Linked DNA regions of Homo sapiens. The protein of the gene in region 7 purifies or fractionates together with the protein of the main gene of each other region. This does not show direct contact. Each region holds a gene or a part of one and is shown on either strand. Other genes may lie near its edges. The genes, in order: GPR89A, CCR9, CMKLR1, TMEM154, TRDN, MTMR1 and STRA6.

What was found.
Region 1: the proteins of STRA6 (region 7) and GPR89A purify together in Homo sapiens (affinity purification with mass spectrometry, with the first as the bait; one large-scale study listed by BioGRID). This does not show direct contact.
Region 2: the proteins of STRA6 (region 7) and CCR9 purify together in Homo sapiens (co-immunoprecipitation; one large-scale study listed by IntAct). This does not show direct contact.
Region 3: the proteins of STRA6 (region 7) and CMKLR1 purify together in Homo sapiens (co-immunoprecipitation; one large-scale study listed by IntAct). This does not show direct contact.
Region 4: the proteins of STRA6 (region 7) and TMEM154 purify together in Homo sapiens (co-immunoprecipitation; one large-scale study listed by IntAct). This does not show direct contact.
Region 5: the proteins of STRA6 (region 7) and TRDN purify together in Homo sapiens (co-immunoprecipitation; one large-scale study listed by IntAct). This does not show direct contact.
Region 6: the proteins of STRA6 (region 7) and MTMR1 purify together in Homo sapiens (affinity purification with mass spectrometry; one large-scale study listed by BioGRID and IntAct). This does not show direct contact.

Annotation. Positions count from the first base shown.
Region 1 is NC_000001.11:145,628,488-145,631,987, reverse strand, and holds part of GPR89A (Golgi pH regulator A), read right to left. Parts: intron 1,302-3,500; coding exon 1,181-1,301; intron 325-1,180; coding exon 244-324; intron 1-243. UniProt on the Homo sapiens protein: Voltage-gated channel that enables the transfer of anions such as iodide, chloride, bromide and fluoride which may function in counter-ion conductance and participates in Golgi acidification.
Region 2 is NC_000003.12:45,885,234-45,889,342, forward strand, and holds the start of CCR9 (C-C chemokine receptor type 9), read left to right. Parts: upstream 1-1,309; 5' UTR 1,310-1,422; intron 1,423-4,109.
Region 3 is NC_000012.12:108,329,312-108,332,811, forward strand, and holds part of CMKLR1 (chemerin-like receptor 1), read right to left. Parts: intron 897-3,500; 5' UTR 684-896; intron 1-683. UniProt on the Homo sapiens protein: Receptor for the chemoattractant adipokine chemerin/RARRES2 and for the omega-3 fatty acid derived molecule resolvin E1.
Region 4 is NC_000004.12:152,652,498-152,655,997, forward strand, and holds part of TMEM154 (transmembrane protein 154 precursor), read right to left. Parts: intron 431-3,500; coding exon 170-430; intron 80-169; coding exon 41-79; intron 1-40.
Region 5 is NC_000006.12:123,218,395-123,220,950, forward strand, and holds part of TRDN (triadin), read right to left. Parts: intron 347-2,556; coding exon 207-346; 3' UTR 1-206. UniProt on the Homo sapiens protein: Contributes to the regulation of lumenal Ca2+ release via the sarcoplasmic reticulum calcium release channels RYR1 and RYR2, a key step in triggering skeletal and heart muscle contraction.
Region 6 is NC_000023.11:150,724,396-150,727,895, reverse strand, and holds part of MTMR1 (phosphatidylinositol-3-phosphate phosphatase MTMR1), read right to left. Parts: intron 682-3,500; coding exon 587-681; intron 213-586; coding exon 105-212; intron 1-104. UniProt on the Homo sapiens protein: Lipid phosphatase that specifically dephosphorylates the D-3 position of phosphatidylinositol 3-phosphate, generating phosphatidylinositol. Could also dephosphorylate phosphatidylinositol 3,5-bisphosphate to produce phosphatidylinositol 5-phosphate.
Region 7 is NC_000015.10:74,189,288-74,192,787, reverse strand, and holds part of STRA6 (receptor for retinol uptake STRA6), read left to right. Parts: intron 1-1,296; coding exon 1,297-1,364; intron 1,365-1,544; coding exon 1,545-1,621; intron 1,622-1,886; coding exon 1,887-1,948; intron 1,949-3,500. UniProt on the Homo sapiens protein: Functions as a retinol transporter. Accepts all-trans retinol from the extracellular retinol-binding protein RBP4, facilitates retinol transport across the cell membrane, and then transfers retinol to the cytoplasmic retinol-binding protein RBP1.

The DNA.
Region 1 (3,500 bases), on a different chromosome or scaffold from region 7:
GGGTCTCACTATGTTACCCAGGCTAGTCTCGAACTTCTGGGCTCAAATGATCCCCCCGTCGTGGCCTCCCAAAGTGCTGGGATCACAGGTGTGAGCCACTGTGTCCAGCCAACACTAAATCTGGTACTTTACCTTATAGTAAAAATGAATAAGATAAAATTCCCTGCCAGCACCAATTCACAGTCAAATTTTCTTGTTGAGAAATTGTAAGAGTCCAAATGTATTACAGTGTTGATATCTTACCTTTTCTTTTTGCTTATGATCATATCCATGGTTTGCAGCAGTCGCCGTTCCAGGGCTAGAATATCCGTGTCAGTCACATTCCTACAAAAAGCACAAACTGCTAGCAAAATGTTTTGGGGTCCCACTCTTGGGCATGATACAGGGTATCTGGAGACAAACATAGACTTCAACTGTTACCTACTACTTTTTTCTAGAAAATAGTAAAATGACCATAATAAACTAAAATGCCTTTGCTCTCATTTCTTATAGCTAATCCTCTGGGATCTCAGGGAAATGGAATTCACCCAGCTCTCTTACAGTTTTTCTTAGCTTTGATCCAGTTACATTTATATATATATATAAAATATATATTTAAATATTTTTATTTTATTTTTTATTATACTTTAAGTTCTCGGATACATGTGTAGAACATGCAGGTTTGTTACATAGGTATACACGTGCCATGATGGTTTGCTGCACCCATCAACCCGTCATTTATTTATGAAAGAGTCTAGCTCTGTCGCCGAGGCTGGAGTGCAGTGGCATGATCTCAGCTCAGTGACATTTAGGATGTATGTTTAAGCACACTTTTAACTTGGCATTGTCTTCTACTGTTCTGTTAATATCTAGGAGGGGAGCTGAACTGCTGAAGTTGGAGTTGGTTTATACTGCTGGTCACTAGAAATGTGCCTTTAAAAAAGTGGGAGGGGAGTGTCAGATTGAAATTTGCCATTTAAAAAATAAATGAATGTAGGACAAATAATAAAGGCAAGCCGTACAAGTGATAATACTTATTTAGAAAGATTTCCAGGTCAATGCCCACAGGGACAGAGGAAGAGAAGAATAAAAAGACAGTGTCATAGATCTAATATATAATCTTAAAGATGGTGGCATAATATGACATATGTATTCAAGAAGTAATGGGGCAAAAAAGAAAGGATGCAAAGCGCTCTGTTACCTGAGGAAGTAAGACATGTAAGTGTATGGGCAGTTGACAGCACCAAATCCAGAAAGAAGAGCCATGAGAGTCACTCCAATCACACCAACCCGGCTGATGAGCTGTTCTATGGATAAGATCCCTAAAAACATCAAGGCACATTAATGCCAGGTAATATAGACAAAATGGCTCTCATCTGTACTGCAAAAGGAAACATTATTTAAAACATTAACCATTACACATAACTAACTCATACAAGCCAACTTTTAATTATTAATGTGTAGATGATTTATAATAAATATACTAAAAGTTTACTGATTTTCCTCCTGTCCCATATGCTTCAGAGTGATCTCTTTTATTGGGTGATAGCAGTAAAATAATAACAACAATAATTATAAATAACAATCATTGACTGTTTACTCTTGGTAGCATGAATGCTAACAAAGCAAAGTACTTTTAGTAAAAGCATCGGCCAAAAAAAAAAAAACTAAGAAAGTAAATCTGCTGGAAAAGTATAAATAGCAGGAACTACTTTGTGCTAATTATCTTTGATATATATGTATTTCCCCTAAGGTGATACTCTTTTGCTTTTGTCTTATTCTTTTTTGCATCCAATAAACACAGAATTCATCTAATAAAAGGACTAAACTTATAGATGAATGAGTAATTCAAAGGCAAACACATCAGTTTCGGATTATAAATTGTATCCTAATTATCAATTGTTTCATATCACGTGAGAATGCTGAAAATCAACTTAGCAGTTAAAATAAATACTGCTGGTTGATGTATTTGGGATAAATGAGAGAAAGCAATGCTGAAGAATAACTCAGTAAGTTTGGCATTGCAGAAAAAGAATGGTTTTAACTGGTTTTCACTTTCTATTTCTAGGATAGAATTCACTACAGCCATCCACTCCTATGGTCAAATGCCAGAGCTATAATTCAGGAATTCTGTCAGCTTCAAAACTGAAAATTCCAATATTCCTTTTCTGACTACTGGCCTCCATTCCTAGTCTTTCTATTTCCACTACACTCGTTTTAGAGGTCAGTGCAACCTCTGGTCTTCTGCTTCTCCATTCTTCACCTAGCTTGGACTCCAGGCTTGCTGGCTTCAAATTCTCTCACCAGGAGCCTCAATCTCCTACTATCTTCCTTCTGAAGCGCTAATCCTACAAATTCCCAACTCTGGATCAGTCTAACACTCTGCCTTCCCTGTGCCCATGTTTTGCTGCCTCAAATTGCTAGAATGCGTACTGATTTTGGAGCCATTACAAATGTATGGTCTCCAGTCCTAAGAGAGCTCTCACACTATTGACTAATCCTTATCTTGCCCTTGGTCAGCCATCTCTCTCCATTGTCTTCGGCAGTTACTCTTTATTTTTCCTACCTTTGTCCTTCTCCTTTGCCAATGTCCTTATTATAAAAGACATAGCTATTAGCCATAAACTACCTTCACTCTACACTATGGTCATGAATTTTCTCCTGGTTGCAAAATTCAACATTTTCCAATCTTTGTTTTATGGGCTGTTTTATAACATTGAATATACATCTGCAATCATCCTCCCAACTTGTCTCCCTTAGAACAAAGTAGCATCCAAAGCTGACTTCTCCACTTGTGCTTCTGATCTTCTCTGGGCCCTGGGAACTGTCTCATCCTTATATGTGAGTTCTGGGATATTGCTAGTGATAATCTTGGTGCTATTTGTTTTTGGTTTTCTGCCAGGGGGGTAAGCAAAGCCAGCTTGCCCCTACGCCACCATCTTGGAACTAGCAGTCACCATACTTTTGATTGTATTCAATCCCTTCCACCTCTTTCAGAGTCTTGTTCCATCATCTGTCTCCTCTCTCTTGTATATTCAATATTTCCTTCTTTGCTAGTTCTTTCTCTTTAGTTTCAATTCTCTTTTCTAAGAGAAATTCTGTTCTTGGCTTCGAGTTTACGTCTAGTTACCAACCCCCATCTATTTCCTCCTTAATAGCCAGGCTTCTTAAAAGAAGTTTATAGTTATTGTCACCTTTTCTTCACCTCCAGTTCATTCCTTAACTGACTGCAATCCAGCTTTCTTCCCATTCTTCTTTATTGAATGAAATTACTTTCACTAGTAATTGTAATGGCAATAGGTAATATTCACCAAGCACCTGCTATGACTAGGCACTGTTCTAAGCATTTCACATGTTCTAATTCATTTAACCCTCATAACAATCCTATGAGGTAGATATTATTGAAAACCTAATTTTACAGATGAAGAAATGGAGGCACAGAGAGGTTAAGTAACTTAGTTAAGGCCACACAGATAAAAGGGGCAGAGTCAGGATTCAAGTGCAGTCTAGCTCCAGAGTCT
Region 2 (4,109 bases), on a different chromosome or scaffold from region 7:
TTAACATCCACAAGAGTGTAGTCATGATTTTCCCCCAGAACAAATATATAAAAGGGATCTTTGTCATAACAATGACAGGAAATCATTAATCACATCAGGATTGAAGTCCCCACTGTAGCAGTGGATGGGAAGACTTCGTCTGTGATCTTCATTAAAAATGCAATATTTTGTATATTTAGCTTTTTTCAAAGTTTTACCAAAACACCTGTAATTAATACAATTTATTGTATTATCTTTGTTAATGTATCTGATGTGCAAAACCTTACTAGATTTGCCCCAATTTGAAGGTGTCTGTGGCTTTCCAGCACTCCATGTGTTCCTAGCTACATCTCACAGGCAGACTTTCTAAAGCAGTGCCTTTCAATAGCACTGTTGGCGACGATGGACAGGTTCTGTATCTGCATTGTCCATTGGGATAGCCACTAGCTGCATGTGGCTATTGAGCACTTGAAATGTACCTGGCATGACTGAGAAACTAGTTAACACTTAAAACATTTTTCTTTTTTGATACAGGGTCTCAGTCTGTTGCCCAGGGTGGAGTGCAGTGGTGCAATCTTGGCTCACTACAACCTCTGCCTCCTGATCCTTCCACCTCAGCTTCCCTGAGTATCTGGGACTACAGGCATGGGCCACCATGCCTGCCTAATTGTTTTTGTGTGTTTTGTAGAGATGAGGTTTCACCATGTTGTCCAGGCTGTTCTTGAACTCCTAGGCTCTGCCTAGTGATCTGCCCGCCTCAGTCTCTCAGAGTGCTGGGACTACAGAGGTGAGCCACTGCACTGGCCCTAGTTAGCATTTTAATTAATTTGAATTTAAATAGGCACATCTGCCTAGTAGCTACTGTGTTGGATAGCACAGCCCTCCGGGTTCTGGTACGTCTGTCAAGGCCAGAAAAGGTATGTTGCGATGGATAGTGCTACATCTGCCACTGGGTGGTAATCTGATACAGGCCTGCTCAGGTGACACCACCTAAAGAAATCTCATCAGTGTGCACCTCTGGCAAGCCTGACAAGGCTGACTTCTCTCGATGGGATCCTCCAATTTCCCCATTCCCTGTAAGCAGCTGTGCTGTCTAGGAAGAGAATTTGCTCTTAGATCATCAGTCTGTATGTGCGTCTTCAGATGAGACAGTTTCCCCTTATCCCAGCAGTTTTCAGCTTTTTGTTTCTGGTTGCAAATGATTGACTCCGCTGATTGCTGGAAGCTACACAGGTGACTCCCCACCCTCTTGGGCTACCCCACCAGTGACAACACAGGCAGGGGTGGCCTGGCTTCCTTTCTCGTGTTGTTATCGGGTAGCTGCCTGCTCAGAACCCACAAAGCCTGCCCCTCATCCCAGGCAGAGAGCAACCCAGCTCTTTCCCCAGACACTGAGAGCTGGTGGTGCCTGCTGTCCCAGGGAGAGTTGCATCGCCCTCCACAGTGAGTATTGCTCTTCTTCTTGTTGCCCCCAACCCAGTGTCATCTTGGCCCTCAGTTGTGTGCTGCTATGATGGCTTCTAAAACCTGGGCTTGCACTCATTTGTTCAGAGGTCATGGGCACCAGGCACTTTTCTAGAAACTTCCAGGAAGGTAAATGGGAATTGGTGATGCCCAACCCAGGTTTCTTGTAGGGCGAGTAATAAAACTCCCTCCCCCTTCACATACATGAAGCTTAGGCTTAAGGCAGTCTGTGATTTATACCTTAAAGGAAGGAGAAGCAGGTGCTGGGGGACAAGATGGTGGCCAGGGGTAAAGGACACACCCATGAGGTCCTTGAGTCTGAGACACTGCCCCATGGAAAGGATTCTTTGTAGCAGTGAAAAACTGGAAACAAGGAAACTATGCATCAGGAGGCGAATGGTTAAATGAATTGTGATGTATCTAGACAATGGAATACACAGCAGCCATCCAATTCTATGATACGGTTCTATGTTGAATTGGCATGGAAGGTGATCCATGAAAGATGGGCAATTAGAAAGCAAGATAGAAGATTATATGTGTAGTCTGATTTCCTTTCTATTAAGTGCGTGTGTGTCTGTGTGTGTGTGTGTGTGTGTGTGAGGTTGTGTTACAGAGAAAAAGTCAGAAAGGAAGTATCTCAGAAACTTAACAATGGCTAAACTAGGAAAGGGTGCTTCAGGAGTTTTTATTTTCTATATTATGTATGTTGGCATTTTGGGGATTTTTTGTGCATTGTAAAAATACTCCTTTATGATCAGAGTAAAGCAAAAAGTTATTTTAAATGACTCATCAGTGGATGCTGGTTTGCCTTTTCAAACACACCTACCCTCTTTAGTTCTGAATTAGCTGTTACTCCATAGACGGCTGGCAAGTCCATCCAGAGAGTGGTCACTGTGTGCTGAACCGGAAGGGCTGTGCAGCAGCCAGTCTGTGGGATCCCATCTCCTTACTCCCTTTCCTGAACGAGCAAAAGCTAATTTACTATTTCAGCATCTGGAATTTCGGAGTCCTTTTCTTCCAATATCTGCTTATCTGTTCTGAAGCCTCTTTGTGTAGGCCTCACTCACAGGCTTGTGTTGGGAGCCCCTGGGCCCTGTGCAGCCCCTGCTGGGCGGTTGGCAGGCATCTGATCCAGGCATGGTGAGTGGATGGATCTGATAGATGGCTCAGAGACCCTGCCTCGTGTAGGGAACAAAAAGCAGAGCTATGAAAAAATGTAAGAGATGATTCAAGCTCCGTGTAGCAAATTGTACAAAGTTCAAAGTAAGGACCTGCATTCCTGACTCATGTTAGTATCTGATTTGATGTTAGTGCTGTAAGCATCAGAGGCTATAAGTGTGGGGAGATGCTGTGTGCACAATAACCCCATGCTGATTTTCATGTTGGCTACGTAAGAATGTTAGAGAATACAAAAATAGTGATTGGATAATAATAGGTTCCAAGCTAACTTTTCTAATAGGCACTTTTCTCTTTTGGAGAATTAGCAGCTCTCTCCCTTCCTTTATCTCCCAGGTCCCTGCACATACCCCATGCTTTCTGACTTTCATGCCTTAGTGCATATGTTTTCCCACCCTGGAGCAATGTTCCCTCCCCTCGTTGCATGTCTCCATGCTCTTCGGCCTTCAAGGACCCGCAAAAATGTCACCTCTTCAATGAAGCCCTCCTGGATTCTCCCCAGAGCTAAAGACATGACCTCCTTCTTCCAATTCCTACCACAACTCATAGCACTTTCCCTTTGTTGTTATTTGCAGCCATGACTTACTCAGTGTATTTGAATGCAAGCTTCTTGAGGACATGGATCATGTCTTACACATTGTTTAAGCCAAATAAATGTATCAGGTACTCAAGGCACATTGAATAAGTGGGTTCGATGGATGGCCCATGGCACCTGCAACAAGGCCTCACTGAGCAGCAAGGGAGAGATTTGCCACAGTGCTGAGTCAACTGCCCATCCACTCCCGACAGACCGCTGAGATGGTCCTCACTCTCAGTATGTTTGGTCATATGTGGGATTTTCCCCCCTATATTTTTCCCGCTTTCTCACTGGCAAGACAAAAATGAAAGCAAGCACTGAGACTTAGTAGCTGGGAGAATAAAATATTTGAGAAGTATTCTGACAAAAATGAAAGAGAAATAGATGGCAAGGCTGTCTGTGGAGGTTCTAGATGTGGGCTCTAGGGAGGGGTATGTCCTGTTTTTACTCTTTGGCTCTCTCCAAATTTTCTATGAGCCAGAAGCAGATGCATATTTTATAAACTGTAATATATTACATTCTATTATACACCATAATATATTACATGATATATACTATTTGTTTATTTATTTTAGAGACAGGGTCTTGCTCTGTCACTCAGGCTGCAGTGCAGCAGTGCAATGTTAGCTCACTTCAGCCTTGAACTCCTGGGTTCAAGCGATTGTCCTGCGTCAGCCAGCTGAGTAGCTGGGACTACAGGGTAGGCAACCATGCCTGGCATATTTTTAAATTTTTTGTAGAGATGGGGTCTTGCTCTGTTGCCCAGGCTGATCTCAAATTCCTGGCCTCAAGTGATGCTCCCACCTCAGCCTCCCAAAGTGTTGGAATTACAGGCATGAGCCATCTTGCCTGGCTTGTGTTTATATATTACCTTTAAAAAAAAAAATAAAGAGAAACCTTTATAGAAAGCTAG
Region 3 (3,500 bases), on a different chromosome or scaffold from region 7:
ACTCCCTGCACTCATCAAGTCTCTGGATCTGTGTTCATGCAGCTCTCCCTGCCTAAAATCTCTCTCATGTCTAGCCAACTGCTCCTATAAGCAACTGAAGGCCAATTCACCCTTTGAACCCAGCTCGAATATATGCTTCCTTCTCGAAGCACTATTTCCTGGCTTCCCCAGTGAAAGCTACCTCCACTTCACTCCTGCAGTACTTTGCACACTAAATGTATCAAGCAGGCATAAGTGGGAGGGTATTTAACAATAAGCACTTGGTAAAAATGGCCCAGTAGTCACTTACTGTTCTGAATGGATGATGAATGGAATCATCATGGGTGACTGTGACCTGTGAGCAAAATTTGCCCCAAGCAACCAACATTAAAGCCAACCTTCTGGCTAGATGGGCCTCCACTCTGTCTGTTTACTCACCTGTCTCCCACTCAACAGGAGCTCCCTGTATCCCATGCTCCTAGCACACAGTTAGTGCTCAGTAAATGCTTGTGAAGTGAACAGAGGCTCCTTTAAACAAATCCTTTTTGAGTTTCAGTTTTCCCATCTGAAAAATGGGAGTGTAGTCTAACTTAGGGTGACAAATGATTATCTCAGATGGCCACTGTCATTCGTTGTTTTAAGATGAAGATGGTAGATTGTCTTTAAAGATAGACTCTAACATCCCACCCTGCCCCAATACTCACATGTCACGCCTCCCATCAAGAAGTGGACTCTATTTCTCCTCCCCTTGAATCTGCACTGGCATGGTGAGTTGCTGTGACCAACAGAAAGTGGTAGAAGTGATGCTGTGCTAGTCCCAGCCTAGATCTCTAGATGCCATCAGCTTCTGCTATCATTGTTGCAGAGCCCTGAGCCTCCTGGTAGAAAAATCCAAGCAGTTCTGCTGGAGAGATGGGCTACAGAGAGAGAGAAAGAGAGAAACAGAGCACACAAGTTCCAGGATGTGAGATCATCTTATATATCCCAGCCCCAGTCAAGCTCCCAGCTGAATGCAGCCCATGAGTAACGCAGCCAACACTATGTGGAGCAGAGATGCACTGTCCCTGCAGAACTCTGCTAAGTTGCATAATTATAAATGAATAAGTCAGTTCAAGCCACTAAATTTGGGGGTGTTTGATCCACAAAGATAAATGACAAAGACATCTGGGTTCAACTAGAGGAAAAGTCATGACTGATGTGTGATGTCTGCCACAGCACATGGTGAGGGGTGTGGACTTCCATCCCTGGACTAGATCATGTCAAGGTCAGTGCCAATTCAATTCAATGCCAATTCGTGATTCTTCTGGGACCTTCTAGAAATGCAAGTTCCAGATTCAGAGGGAATCCATCCACCATCAGAGAGAACCCCAGCAGGGATCCAGTGGGGACCCTGGAAGGATTACATGAACCAATGAGGTAGCCCCTCTTGGGGCATATAAACAGTGACTTGGAAATAAAGTAGAGCAGTTGGTAGCAGGACTGGGAGCAGAAGGAGGTAGACATAGGAGACACTGAGCCCCATTGATAGTAGAACAGCTGAATGGGGGCTGCAGGCTCCTGCAGCCTAGGGGACAAAGATAATCCAGCCCTCAAGCCAACACATATCCCAAGAGCCTTCCAGGTCAAACACAAGGCTGGCTGGGCAGCTGGCACCTTCTCCCCTCCTAGTTAGCATCCACATCCTCAAAAATGAACCTCCTCTCTTACAGGGGGGAAGAGAAGGAGCCCTTGTGCTCCTTGCAGCCCATGAGCCAGACAAGCATGTCTCCCTAGCATGGGGCAGAGACAGAAAGGTTCTCATAACTAGAAATCACCAGTACCTGGGATGGAGAGACTCAAGCTGGGAAGTTAAACTCCTGGGGGATCATTCATTCCTGTTGAGCCTCCTACCAGGTGCCAGACACTTAACTCTTACTATCTCCTTCCATCCTAACTACTACCCTATGTACAACATGCCGCCATCCCCATTTCACAGATGGGAGAACCCCCTCGTTCAGAGTCAGCAGGTTCATAAGTGCAGGGACGTGAACGCAGTCTAAATGATGCCAAAGTCTGGTTCCTGGTTCGGTCCTGATAATCACTGAATACTCCCTGGTAAAGCCTCACTGGTTGCTACACTTGCATCCATTCTAATTGGTCAATACTCTGCTGAACCAACTGTCAATAGATGGCCACCTGAACTCCCAATATCTAAATTCGAAATTCAAGAAACAATCAGATGCAGACCAATGTCACTGTTAGACAGAATAACAGATCCCCAAAGATGTCCACATCCTAATCCCCAGAACCTGTAAATATGTCATCCTACATGGCAAAAGACACTTTGCAGACGTCATTAGGAATCTTGAGATGGTGGGATTATGCTGGATTACCCAGGTGAGCTCAGCGTCTTTAAAAATGAGACAGAGAGGCAGGAGAGTCAAAGTGATTTGATGTGACGAGGACTCAACCTGCGGTTGCTGGCTTTGAAGGCTGGGGAAGGGGACCATGAGTCAAGGAATGTGGCAGCCTCTAGAAGCTGGAAAAGGAGGGCAAACAGATTCTCCCCTAGGGCCTCCGGAAGAGATGCAATCTTTGATTTTAGCCCAGTGAAACCCATTTGGGACTTCTGACCTCCAGAACTAATAAGATAATAAGTTTGTGTTGTTTTAAGCCATTCGGTTTATGGTTATTGTTATAGCAGTAACAGGAAACATATACACTTGCTACCTGAATTCTTACTTCATATAACACTCAGGAATTCATAGATTCTGATAACTGTTCAAACCAATTCAGGTAACAAAGGATGGGCATTTGAGTGTCCCCTGCCCTTATTCCCCACCCCAAGTCATTTACTGAGCACCTACTCCAGGCCAAAGAACATGGCAGACACTCTCTCAACAACCCTGGGCAGGAGGAAACTGAGGCCTAAAGAGGTTATATGTATGTGACTTGCACATGCTCACAAAAACAATAGGTGGCCGGGCTCACCGCAAAAACATGCGGTGGCTCATGCCTGCAATCCTAGCACTTTGGGAGGCCAAGGCAGGTGAATCACTTGAGTCCAGGAGTTCAAGACCAGCTTGGGCAATGTGGTGAGACCCTGTGTGATGGTTAATACTGAGTGTCAACTTGATTGGATTAAAATATAATAAGTATTAATCCTGCATGTGTCTGTGTGGGTGTTGCCAAAAGAGATTAACATTTGAGTCAGTGGGCTGGGGAAGGCAGATCCACCCTTACTCCGGTGGGCACAATCTAATTAGCTTCCAGAGACTATAAAGCAGGCAGAAAAACCTGAAAAGGAGAGACCGGCCTAGCCTCCCAGCCTACATCTTTCTACCATGCTGGATGCTTCTTGCCCTCGAACATCGGATTCCAAGTTCTCCAGTTTTGGGACTCAGACTGATTCTCCTTGCAGATGGCCTATTGTGTGACCTTGTGATCATGTAAATTAATACTTAATAAGCTCCCCCTTTTTATATGTAGAGAGTGAACCGTAAGAGAACCCTCTAAGAGAACCCTGACTAATACATCCTGTC
Region 4 (3,500 bases), on a different chromosome or scaffold from region 7:
CCCACCCCCACCTGTAGGCAGGTTTTAGGATAATACTCACATGTCTGTAAAGCACTCTGAGATCCTTGGCTAGAAGGTTCTGTATCAAAGCAAAGAATATTTTGTTTTATTGATTGTTCACTAACACATGAAGCAATTTTCTGGAAATGGAAATACACCAAATATTTACCTTGTTTAGTTCTTTTTCTTTTATAGTATGTTGCAAGGAATACCACGGATAAAAGTAAGAGGACCAATAAAATCAATGGGATTAACACCATCAGTATAAACTCTAACTGATTTTCATCCGGAGCAAAGTTGGTAGAATTTATATTTGCATTTAATGTTTCTTTGATGGTCACTGCAGCAAATGTGCTTGGAATAGTCACTTTATTTGGTCTTTCAGATTCCACAGTTGTATCTCCTGAGTTTTCTAATTCCTCATAATTACCTGTGGGAATAGATACAAAATTGAAATTTCCATGGAGACAAAGTTAGTATGTTATATTGTCAATGATTTTTAAATTATTCCTAGATACATTCTGTGATAAATTTGACCCACTATACTTGGCCTCCAAGCTAAGTGTGACACAGAACATTGATTTAACATAAATGAAGCTCAAGCTGGGAGTGTATTGAATATGGAATCAGAGCTCAGAGAAAAACCTTGCACAAAGGTAGGCAGTTTTGCATTGACCAGACATTTTAGATACGCTTAAGCAAAGTGGATTCGGAAGCTTCCTCATGTTAAGGGTGATTTTCCAAGCCAAGTAATGTGATATTACAGGACATCTCCTATAGGGTATGATAATATTTTAACAAAATGTCTGAATAAATTTAAATTCACATTTACTAAAATTAAGTACATGCCATACAGCACTTTTAGATGTAAAGAAATGCACTCTGTGTCCTAATTTTTTTTTTTTTTTTTGAGGCAGAGTCTTGCTCCATTGCCCAGGCTGGAGCGTAGTGGCATGATCTCAGCTCACTGCAACCTCCACCTCCTGGGTTCAAGCAATTCTCGTGCCTCAGCCTCCAGAGTAGCTGGGATTACAGGCATGTGCCACCATACCCAGCTAATTTTTGTATTTTTAGTAGAGACAGGGTTTCACCATGTTGGCCAGGCTGGTCTCGAACTCCATGCCTCAAGTGATCCACCCGCCTCAGCCTACCAAAGTGCTAGAATTGCAGGTGTGAGCCACTGCGCCTGTCTGTGTCCTAATATTTAAATAAAAGGTTACCTATCAATGGAAAATAATTCTTTGAAAATGAATTGACTGTGCCGGGCATGGTGGTTCACGCCTGTAATCCCAGCACTATGGGAGGCTGAGGTGGGCAGATCACCTGAGGTCAGGAGTTCGAGACCAGCCTGACCAACATGGTGAAACCCTGTCTTTACTAAAAATACAAAAATTAGCTGGGCGTGGTGGTGCATGCCTATAATCCCAGCTACTTGGGAGGCTGAGGCAAGAGAATTGCTTGAACCCAGGAAGCAGAGGTTGCAGTCAGCCAAGATCGCGCCATTGCACTTCAGCCTAGGCAACAAGAGCGACACTCCATCTCAAAAAAAAAAGAAAAAGAAAAAAGAAAAGGAAAATAAAAACCATCAGGATGAGAAAGGACTACTGACTTGATGACTATCTGAAAAACTTTTCCTTACCTGTCTAAGCAGTAGTCATGGTAAGATAAGCTGAAGGTCTTTGTCCTAATATCGTATAATGTTGTCTACCTTTCAGAAGGGGCCAACTGAGGAAAATACCTCGTAAGTTGATGCTACAGAAAACTTATCAAATGAGATAATTTACAAGAAAGTTATTCTAAGGTGAAAGGAACTATGCAAATACAGAAGTCAGCTGCTTTAAACCACACTCTGCGGTATAGGTTAGGCAATTACTTTACAGAATGATCAAACTGGACATTGCAGAGCCAATTCAATAGTTCATCTATCTTCATAATCCCATGACAATGGAGTCCTCTGATTTTGGTTGAAACAATAAAAATGTTTGGTCACTGCTATGAATTGAATGTTTGCATTCCCCTCAAATTCATATATTGAAGCCCTAATCCTCAATGTGATGGATTAGGGCTAAGAGGTGAGGCCTTTGAGAGGTCATTAGGTTTAGATGAGGTCATGAGAGTGGGGACCCTATGACAGGATTATTGCTCCTATGAGAAGATAAGAAAACCAGAGTTCTCTTTCCTTGCCATATGTGGATACGGAAAGGTGGTGACTGCAGGCCAGGGAGAGAGTTCTCACCAAATACTAAATCTTCTAGCACCTTTGATCTTGAACTTCCCAGCCTCCAGAACTGTGAGAAATAAATGTCTGTTGTTTTAAGTCTTGCAGTCTGTGGTATTTTGTTATGGTATCTGAGCTAAGACAGTAAGAATCTAATTGTGTTGATTGTATGAATAAATACTTTCAGTCTCCCACATCAGGGAATTCATTTGATAATCCCTTTAGTAAATGCAACCCCAAACCATCAGAATCAATTACAAACTACAGAGTAAACTCACTGGTGTTTCTCATGTGTATATGCCAAAGGCAGGATTGAAAAAAAAAACTACCAATGTTTGAAGAGTGGAGGGGCTTCAAAATGGCTGACTAGATGCATCTGGCAGTCACCTCTTCACAAAAAATAACAAAAATACTGAGTAGATAAGCTACATTTTGAATTGATCATTTAAGGGAGAACACAGGAATTCAACAGAGTAGTAATAGACAACACTTAAAGCACGGAAGGAGAGGGAAATAAGGCATCCTTCTTGGCTGAGACTGGCTGGGAGCCAGGAGAAGCTCCCCAATGTGGGGAAAGGGTAGTGGTCCATATTTCCACTGCAGACTCCTGCAGCCTAGCCACGGGAGAGCCCCTCAACTCTCACAGGCCCTGAGACTAACACTGAGAGCGCCTGTACACTGTGCAATGGCATTGCTCCAGAGAGGGACCTTATGCGGAGTCCCACACACCCCTGAGCCCTAGTGGCTGCAGCACAGTGCCACTTTGAGGGCCCAGCCCCCACCAGACTGTATCCTGCCCTAGGGCCCAACAGCCCCTGAATCTCCATGTCTCTGGAGCTCCTGCCTGCAGCCACCAGCGCTGCTGGCTGCTGCTGCCAGGGCCAAGGTAGGAGCCGCTGGCAGCACCCCTCCCCCCACCCCTGGCCAGCAGCGGGGCGCTCACACATGTTTATGTGCCTCAAGGACAAACTCCACTGTCCTCAGCTATTGCTGCTATAAACTGCTGCTGCTAGGGCCAAAGCATGAGCAAAGCATAGCCCCAGCTGGCTGCCTATGGTTGCTCCCACTGAAAGCAATCCCATCCTCTGCAGTAGCAGGCAGCAGTGTAGTCACTGCTGCCTTCACCTGAGCTTTCTATCAGCAGCCTGGGGATTGCTTCACCCCTACCTATTACAGCCAGCTACTGCATGCCCCACCAGAGAGTCAAAGAACAGGTCTGCACAGGCCAGCTCTCTCCCAGTGCAGTACTTGAGTGTGCCATTTGGGGCCTGGTGATTGCCCA
Region 5 (2,556 bases), on a different chromosome or scaffold from region 7:
TAACAGATTCTTGAGACTTAGACCCTTAAACATGTCTGCTCATCACTCAATCCATTTGGCCACCCTTTCCGTCCACACCAGGCCAAAGAGCAAAATGTTTTCACAGAAATTCTCTGGGTTGCATATTCTTAATTGCCTGAACTACTGTGGACAAAACATCACATTTTTAAAATCTTAAAGCACTTGTAAGGGTCATACATGTGTGTTTACTGTCCTTGTTGCTTCTGTCCTGGAGAATTTGCTTGACCAGAGCTCTCTCCAGGGCGGTCTGCAGGAGTGAAAGGAAACTGAAATCCATAGCCATTGTACCCATCCAAGTAGACACACTGGAAGAAACTGATGGGACCTAAGGAACAGAGCATGACAGTTTGTTAAAACATGCAGAACATGAGCAAAAAAGCACAGTGAGGCAGTGCAGTGCAGCAGATAAGGTCACAGATTCTGCCAGCAGCCTCCGTAGCTGTTGGCAAGTTACTAAACTTCACTGTGTCTTGGAGTCTTTATGTATAACATCAAAACAACGAAAACCGCACAGAAATATTATGACAGTTAAATGAGTTACATGAGTTACATGTGCTCTTAAAATTCTTCCTGGTATGTAATAAGCCTTTAATAAGTGATAATAAAAATGGCCTGGCAGAGAAAGTCAAAGTTCTGATCATATAGACATCTGTTGATGTGCATAGCAATCATAGAGACATAGTCACAGGTTTCAAAATATGAGCTTATCAATATGCAAAGCAACAGACTGTGTGTGTGTGTTTTATAATGTCACAGAGAGGTGGTGCCAACATCTAGAAGTTTTATTTGCCCTTACTTTAGAGGCAAGAGCTTTCCTAAGGTGGCTTGGTTGCTCTTTGAGCAACAAAGGTAGCAGCCAGGTAGCAGCTCTGAGTAGAAAGCAAAACAGGAAAGTTAAGGGAGTGTGGTGCAAGTAAGGACTCTGGACTCAGTAAGCCGGTGCTCCCAGGTAGCAGCTTTGGTAAAAGATGGCGAGTTTAGCATCTCCTCACAATCTTGGGTGCCTACAAACTTCCAGTGTTTTCTATCCTATCCATTTGCATTCTGTCAACCAGCCATAGATTTTTGCAGAAGGCCAGGAAAGAAAAATCATAGTTAAAGCTAGTGGTGTGTGGGAGATAAAGAAGATGGCCAAATCCATATGAGACTAGGGGTTTATGAAGTAGAATAAAGCAAAGGATAGGAAAAAAGGAAGCTGGAGAAGCAACCAGGGAGTATTCTGATTCCATTTCCATGGGTCACTGGGTTTTCAGGGATGACAATAGTTTGAAGAATCTTGAATTTAGTTATCTTTTCCAATGCATCTCATCTGGAATGATTTCTCTTTTCTTCTATCTTCAAACCGAAGCAATAATACAACTTCCGTCTCTTCAAGTTTGTGGAGGTTATGGGAGCTTGGGGGTTAGGCAGGCTACAAGAGGGACAGTAGTAAAGCCGGCCCTGCACAAGGAGAAATGGAAATCCATTGCTAAAAGTAGAAGGGCCCATCAATGACAGGCTGCCTTCCAGCTGCTTATCAGAAGTGGACACTGTTTTGACACATTTATTTAATTGATGTTGAATAAGCTACTCATTAAAATATTATTATGACTGCAAATATTAGAGCTTAAATTAAAGGCTCATGAATATCAGGCTATAGAACTGCCTTCTTGTAAGACGAAGATAGCAAATATCATTTTGATGCAATAGATCCCCCAACTGAGGTTAGAATATTTGACACCATTTTACTAAAAGTATTTGCGTTTTGTTTTTAATTAAAATTTTTACTTTGAAATAATTGTAGACTCACATGTAATTGTAAGAGTTAATACAGAAAGATACCACATATCTTCACCTAGTTTCCTTCAATGGTAACATATTGTAAAACTATAGAACAATATTCCAACTAGGAAACTGGTATTGATACAATTCACCTGTCTCATTGAATTATATTTTAATAGTTATTTAAAATATATGAGATTTCAAATGTTTATGTGACATAGCCACAAATTATTACCAGTAGGTTAATAATTGGGAAAGCGTTGCTATATAAAATGAAAATATGTCCAGATTGACCTATAATTCTTTTTCTTATGGATTTTGTAATATTACTCAAAGTATCATAAGACTCTGCTTATTTCCCTATATTTCTCACAACCTTATTATATGAAGGATTATAATAAGTGTCTTATCTACTGCAGTAGTTCCAGCATCCAAAGAAGTACTTGGAACATAGTAGGCATTCAGTATCTGTCTAATGAATCACCTATTAATACAGAGTAGGAGGCATTTGCTATTGTAAGGGGCACTTTAGTAATTTCCTGCACAAAAACATCCAAAAAGCACTGGAGAATCAAGAGACGTCATTTCTTCAGACAAATATCTAGCTCTTTACTTTAAAAGCATTATGTGACACAAACTTCAGTTATACCTATTTCAAAAATTGCTTCCTTTATTCTGTTCTGCAATGACTTTAATGCAAATACAGATTTAAAATTTATTGCTTTACCATATGAACAAAAATGTCTAATTTGGAAGAACCGAAATAATGAGAAA
Region 6 (3,500 bases), on a different chromosome or scaffold from region 7:
CAGTACAAATTATTCTACTGTCCAAAGACCATGAAGAGACTGAGGGAGAAAAAGTTCAGAGCTGATTGCCCTCTTTTAGTTTTCACTTGGCGTTTCTATTATACCTTGCACACTATCTCTATACCACAGGAATTGTCTCCATGGCTCTGTGCTCCAATCTTCTCCACTCTGCTGATCACTCCAAGGGGAACATCAAGGATAAAATGCGGGTCCTAGGTTCAAAAATTAAGATCAATGCCTATTAGTGTCAGTCAACAGTTTTCATATTTTAAGTCTTTGCTGGGTTACAAAACATGTTTGTTTACTTCGCATTTCCTCTTTGTCCCAGCTAAATTGAAGTCTGATTGACAGCATTCCTTGTGAAATATATATTGAGACAACAATGGAATTTCCCCTCCAGGTTTAAGCGGTACTTTAACAGCCTTTGTTTTCAAGATACAAACATCTGTTTGCAAATGTGTGCATCTCAAAATCCAACCTGTGGTTATCTCAGGGTAATGGGATTTCAGGGGACTTTTTACTTTCTTCTTTTAGTGTTCTTTTAAAAGTGTTTCTTTTAAAATAAAACACACTTTAAAAAACTCACCCTCTCGACATTTTTGAAGTACAGCTTAAAGTCCGTCACTGTCAGGGTTCCACTCACTGCTCCCATAAATGGGCAGATATACATGACATCTTTCACTGAAAGAAAAAGGCCAAAGTAGCAACTACTGCCATAGACTTGTGCTTCCATAAAACTTAACACGAGTTTTCCAAATATATATTTGTGATTCCAGTTTTCCAGGAATTTTGTATTTTATAGGATTATATCAATTATGACTTTCAATATAGAGAGATGCATAGTCTTCTAATAAATTTCAATTTTTTAAAACAAAATTCTGATTTGCTACTTAATGAGGTTTTAAGTAAAGGGCCTCATAAGAAGTTATATTCTGTCATTTTTCCTAGGTAGTTAACATTTTCCCTGGGTGATAAATTAATCATATTCAAAACATTAATTAAACTCTGAAAACCCTGGGCTACTGTTTCATGAATTACTGCTACTTAAAACTAATGAAAACTAAAGATTGTCTCCTAATGCATCTCCAAAGGAAACTCTTTTTACAGAAGACAAAACCTAGAACCACATCAATGAAATGGAAAAAGACTTATTTCAAATTCCTTATCCCCTTATCAGTTTTAATTTTTTGTCAATATCTATTAAGTGCGTGACATATTTAATTCCCATTAGTGTTAAGAAGCTCACTTCTATCACAAAGATACCACATCTTCATGTTTTCCCAAAGTGCCATTCCACTGGAATGACAAGAATATACATAGCTATATATGAGTCCAAGTGAGACAACAAAAGGCATTAACGTCATTGAACCAAATTCTCAGAATACTTCCATTGAACTTTTCTATACTCCTTATGTACTGAGAGCCTTCTATTGCTGGGATTCTGGGTATAATTGGAAGAAGTTCCTGTCCATGAGCAGCCCATGACCTGTGAGAGATACCACACAGAAAAATCGCCATTATACTAGAGCAGAGGTCCCCAACCTTTTCGGCACCAGGGACTGGTTTCATGGAAGACAACTGTTCCATGGACCAGGGCAGAGGTAGGGGGATGGTTTCAGGATGAAACTGTTTCACCTCAGATTATCAGGCATTAGACCCTCATAAGGAACATACAACCTAGATTCCTCACATGCGCAATTCACAACAGGGTTCACGCTCCTGTGAGAATCTAATGCCACCGCTGATCCGACAGGAGACGGAGCTCAGGCGATAATGCTCACTAGCCCGCTGCTCACCTCCTGCTGTGCAGCCCCGTTCCTAACAGGCCATGGACCAGTGCTGATCCACGGCCCATGGGTTGGGGATCCCTGCACTAGAGGTTGACAAAAGCTAAAATAACAATGTGGACACAAAGTATTACAATGGAAGTTCAGAAAAGGATCAACTTAACTCAATAGGAAAGTGGGTAGGGGGAGTAAGAGAAGGAAGGGAGGAAGGGCACAGTGATAAGTTGTTAGAGGTTAGTATGCCTGGATCAATGGGTGCAGTGAGGACAGTCGAATATGAGGCCAGAGAAGTTGGCAGGGAGTGGATTGGCAAGTGCTTCTGTAGGAGACTAAGGCATTATTATCATTATCCTTAAAAGATAACTGTTTAAACAAAAACAAAAACAATATATTGTGGGGTTTATAACATATGTAAAAGTAAAATGGATGACAACAACAGCATAAAGGGTAGGAGGGGACAAATGGGAGTATACTACTATAAGGTTCTTATCCTGTACATGAAGCAGCATACAATCATTTGAAGGTAGACATAAAGATGTAAAATAACTAGTTACATAACAAAACAAACAATTATAGCTAATATGCAATCACAGGACATAAAATAGAATTCTAAAAAGTAAAAACCCCATAGTCTCGACCCAAAAGCTCCTTCAGCTGATAAACAACTTTGATAAAGTTTCAGGATACAAAATCAGCATACAAAAATCACTAGCATTCCTATACACTAACAACAGCCAGGCCAACAGCCAAATCAGGAATGCAATCCCATTCACAATAGCCACAAAAAGAATAAAATACCTAGGAATATGGCTACCCAGGGAGGTGAAAGATCTGTACAATGAGAATTACAAAATACTGCTCGAAGAAATTAGAGATGACATAAACAAATGGAAACACATTCCATGCTCATGGATAGGAACAATCAATATCGTGAAAATGGCCATACTGCCCAAAGCAATTTATAGATTCAATGCCATTCCTATCAAACTACCAATGACATTCCCAGAACTAGAAAAAAACTATTTAAAAATTCATATGGAACCAAAAAGAATAGCCAAGGCAATCCTAAGCAAAAAGAACAAAGCTGGAGGCATCATGTTACCAGACTTCAAACTATACTACAGGCCCACAGTAACCAAAACAGCATGGTACTGGTACAAAAACAGACACACATAGACAAGTGGAACAGAATAGAGCGCCCAGAAATAAGGGTGCACACCTACAACCCTCTGATCTTCAACAAAAGCAAGCAATAGGGAAAGAATTCCTTATTCAACAAATGGTGCTGGGATAATTAGCTAGCTATATGCAGATGACTGAAACTGGATCCCTTCCTTACACCATATACAAAAATCAATTCAAGATGGATTAGAGACCTAAATGTATAACCCAAATCTGTAAAAACCCTGGAAGACAACCTAGGCAGTACCATTCTGGACATAGGAACTGGCAAAGATTTCATGATAAAGATGCCAAAAGCAATCACAATAAAAGCAAAAGTTGACAAATGGAATCTAATGAAACTAAAGAGCTTCCGCACAGCAAAAGAAACTATCAACAAAGTAAACAGCCTACAGAATGGGAGAAAATATTTGCAAACTATGCATCTGACAAAGGTCTAATATCCAGCATCTATAAGGAATTTAACAAATTTACAAGAAAAAACACAAACAACCCCATTAAAAAGTGGGCAAAGGACAAGAATAGATACTT
Region 7 (3,500 bases):
CAAAGGGGAAAGAAGAACAGACTCAGGAGAAAGTCTTAAGACATAGAGGCCAAAGGGCGTGGCTTCTCTTCAGACAGGGCAGGGGAAGGAAAGGCTTGATGGGAGGCACCTGGCCAGCCAGCAGGTAGGTGGTGGTGCCAGCTGCTGGCCCAGGGAAGGTGGAGGGAGGAGCAGGTGCTCCTGGGATGATGCTTGGTCCTGAGGGTGTACTGCTCAAAGTCTGGAGCTCAGCAGAGGGGCTGGGACCGGGTGTTAACTCGGCAAGGTCAGACTGAATCCAGAGAGTGAGTGAGATCCCTAGGCAGGATGGAGAACCCCGGGTCCCTTTTGGGCTACTCTGGTCCGAGAAGGCCCACGGACTCCAGACTCGGCTCCCACGTGGCAGGCAGGGAGTTCTGAGCGCTTGTAGCTCCTGCCTATTGAGGCCAACACCCCTCGAGGAAGCCTGTGTCCCCTCCTGTTTACAGCTGGCTCTGAAAAGGGAGCGGCCCCCCGGGACGACACAGTGCCTGAGGCATGCCCCTTTACCTTCTCTTCCAGGGTTTCCACCACCCCATCTCTCTCTCCATTGCCAGCCTTTCCTCCCAGGCTTGAGAGGTGTACAATCCTCTTTGGACTTTGGTCAAAGAGGTTTAAGTCTCAAAGGACCCCCATCAAGCTTTGAGCTGACCCACTCCTGCCCGGGATCCCAGGGTTGTCATGGCAACAAGTGACAACAGCCTGTGTTCTCCCAGTGATTCCAGGCAGGGGCTCACCCCATCTTCCCATGGGCCTCTGCTACTTCACAGGCAGCTTAAGGCCTGGAATGTGGCTTAGACAAATCTGGTCACCCTTGTGATCTCCCTTGCGCAGTGGCAGCAGGAGAAGCCTGAGGGTGTCTGACCTGGAATGACCCTCTTCTGTGTCCTGGTCTAGGATGTGCCCGTGGGACACAAGCTTCCCTTTGCCCCAGTTTCAGCTAGCAGAGGCCAGAGGGCTAGGGGTGGGAAGAAACGGTGAAGAGATGTGACTGAGTAAAGCAGGCGAGAGTTGGAGACAGATCTTAGGAAGAACTTCCTGGCATTGATGGTTCTTTGATAGGAGACTGGCCTTGTATTTGTGAGAGAGAAAAGGGAAGCTTTGGAGGGCACGGACCTCATCCCCACAGGTCAGCCCCATCCACACTCACCACCACCGCCATGGCCAACAGGTTTTTATGGAGCACCTGCTTGGTGAACACTCTAGTTCCCTGAGCCAGGGACCCACGAATGGGTCGAGGCAGATCTCATCTGCTTGTTCAATTGTCTGTCTCCACAGGGGCTGCAGAGCAGCTACTCTGAGGAATATCTGAGGAACCTCCTTTGCAGGAAGAAGCTGGGAAGCAGGTGGGGTCTCTGACACACCCTTTGTGGGCCAATGGATTGGGCTGGTTAGCAGCCGTGCTTGGGAAGCTGGCACTGGGCAGCATGGCAGGGGCAGAGGGGAAGAATGACCAGCCTCTGGGGCTGGCCCTCAGGGAATGGGCTTCCCCTGAGGACCCCGCACCTGCCTGGGTCTTTCTGCAGCTACCACACCTCCAAGCATGGCTTCCTGTCCTGGGCCCGCGTCTGCTTGAGACACTGCATCTACACTCCACAGCCAGGTATGGGGTTGGGAGCTGAGGCCGAGCGTGACAGGGGACGTTACCCTCCCTTGCACAGAATGGCTGCAGTGGAGGACTGGCTCCTGCTCCCCAGAATCCTTGTCATCAAGAGGGACAACTACCAGCTTGGGACAGCGGGAAGACCCTGGCCTGGCCTTGGTCATTTAGGGTCCTGCTGGCCCTTTTCCTGGGCCCCTTGGGAGGGAGGAGGGCTCCCGGGCCTGAGTGGTGCTGTTCACCATACTCCTTCCTTTGAGGACTACAGGATTCCATCTCCCGCTGAAGCTGGTGCTTTCAGCTACACTGACAGGGACGGCCATTTACCAGGTATGTCCCTCACCCTGTACTGCCATCTGCCTCTGGAGCCCTGCCCTCAACCCCCAAGCCTGGAGCAGTTCCGGCCCAACCCAGCTCTCCAGGTGCTCCATCCAGAACCCTGACCAGGTGCTGCAGGCCATCTTGGGAGTTCTGGCCTACCCAGAAGGGCCGGGGTGTTCACTCTTGGACTCATGAAGTGACTCGGAGCATTAATTTTGGAGGCCACATAAACACGAATTTAAATCCTAGCTCCACTATTTACCTCCTGTGTGGCCTTGGGCAAGTTATATAACCTCTCTGAACCTGTTAGCTCATCTGTAAAAAGGAGAAAATAGAATAATTTTCCTCTTTGAGTAATTGGGAAGATTTAGCAAGACAACATGTTTGATAAACTCTGCCTCACCACCTCCGAAAAAAAAAAAACCCCGAAAAAACCAACAACAACAATTAAAATCCTGGGAGATGGGTATGATTATTCTCCACTTTACAGATGGGGAGAATGGAAGCTTGGAGAGGTGAATTTGACTTGGCCAAGTTTCTGCACAGCTAATATCTCAGCGTAGCCTAAGTTTGAATCCAAGTCTGTCCAGCTTTAATTCCTGTGCTCATTTACTTTCACAACATAGAAAAACCAGAAATTTTACATTCCAAAGTTTAGATAGATAGATGATGGGTAAATAGATAGAGGTGCAGACACAGTCATCCCTCAGTATCTGAGGTGGGTTGGTTCCAGGAACACCCCTCCATACCAAAATCCAAAGGCTCAAATTTCTGATATACGATGGTGTAGTATTTGCATATAGCCTACACACATTCTCCAGTATACCTCGTTATCTCTAAAGTACTTATAATATCGAACATAAGTGCTATGTAAACAGTTGTCCTATGTCTGGGTGTGGTGGCTCACACCTGTAATCCCAGCACTTTGGGAGGCTGAGGCGGGCGGATCACAATGTCAAGAGATTGAGACCATCCCAGCCAATGTAGTGAAACCCTGTCTCTACTAAAAATATAAAAATTAGCTGGCGGTGGTGGCGCGGGCCTGTAGTCCCAGCTACTCAGGAGGCTGAGGCAGGAGAATTGCTTGAACCTGGGAGGTGGAGGTTGCAGTGAGCCGAGATCGCGCCACTGCACTCCAGCCTGGCCACAGAGCAAGACTCCATCTCAAAAAAAAAAAAAAAAGAAGAAGTTGTCCTACTGTATTATTTTTTATTTGTATTATTTGTATTGAATTGTTATTTTTTATTGAGGGTTTTTCCCCAAATATTTTTGATCTGCGCTTGATTGAATTGGTTGGTTGTGGATGTGGAACCCACAGATACGCAGGGCTGACTATATGAAGTTACGGTGCTCGAAGGCATGCCTTTGGCCTATTAGGCTGTGATTGCACCTGTCTGTAATGTCCTCATTTAGAGGCGTGAGATCCCTGCTCTAAGGGGCAGATAAGAACACTGATGGGCAATGGGCATGTGGCTGGGGCCTGTGTGCTGCCAGTTTCTTCCCCAGCGTCTCCCCTGTTAGCACAGAAAACCCTTTCCTGGGATGGGGCCCTCACTGTGGG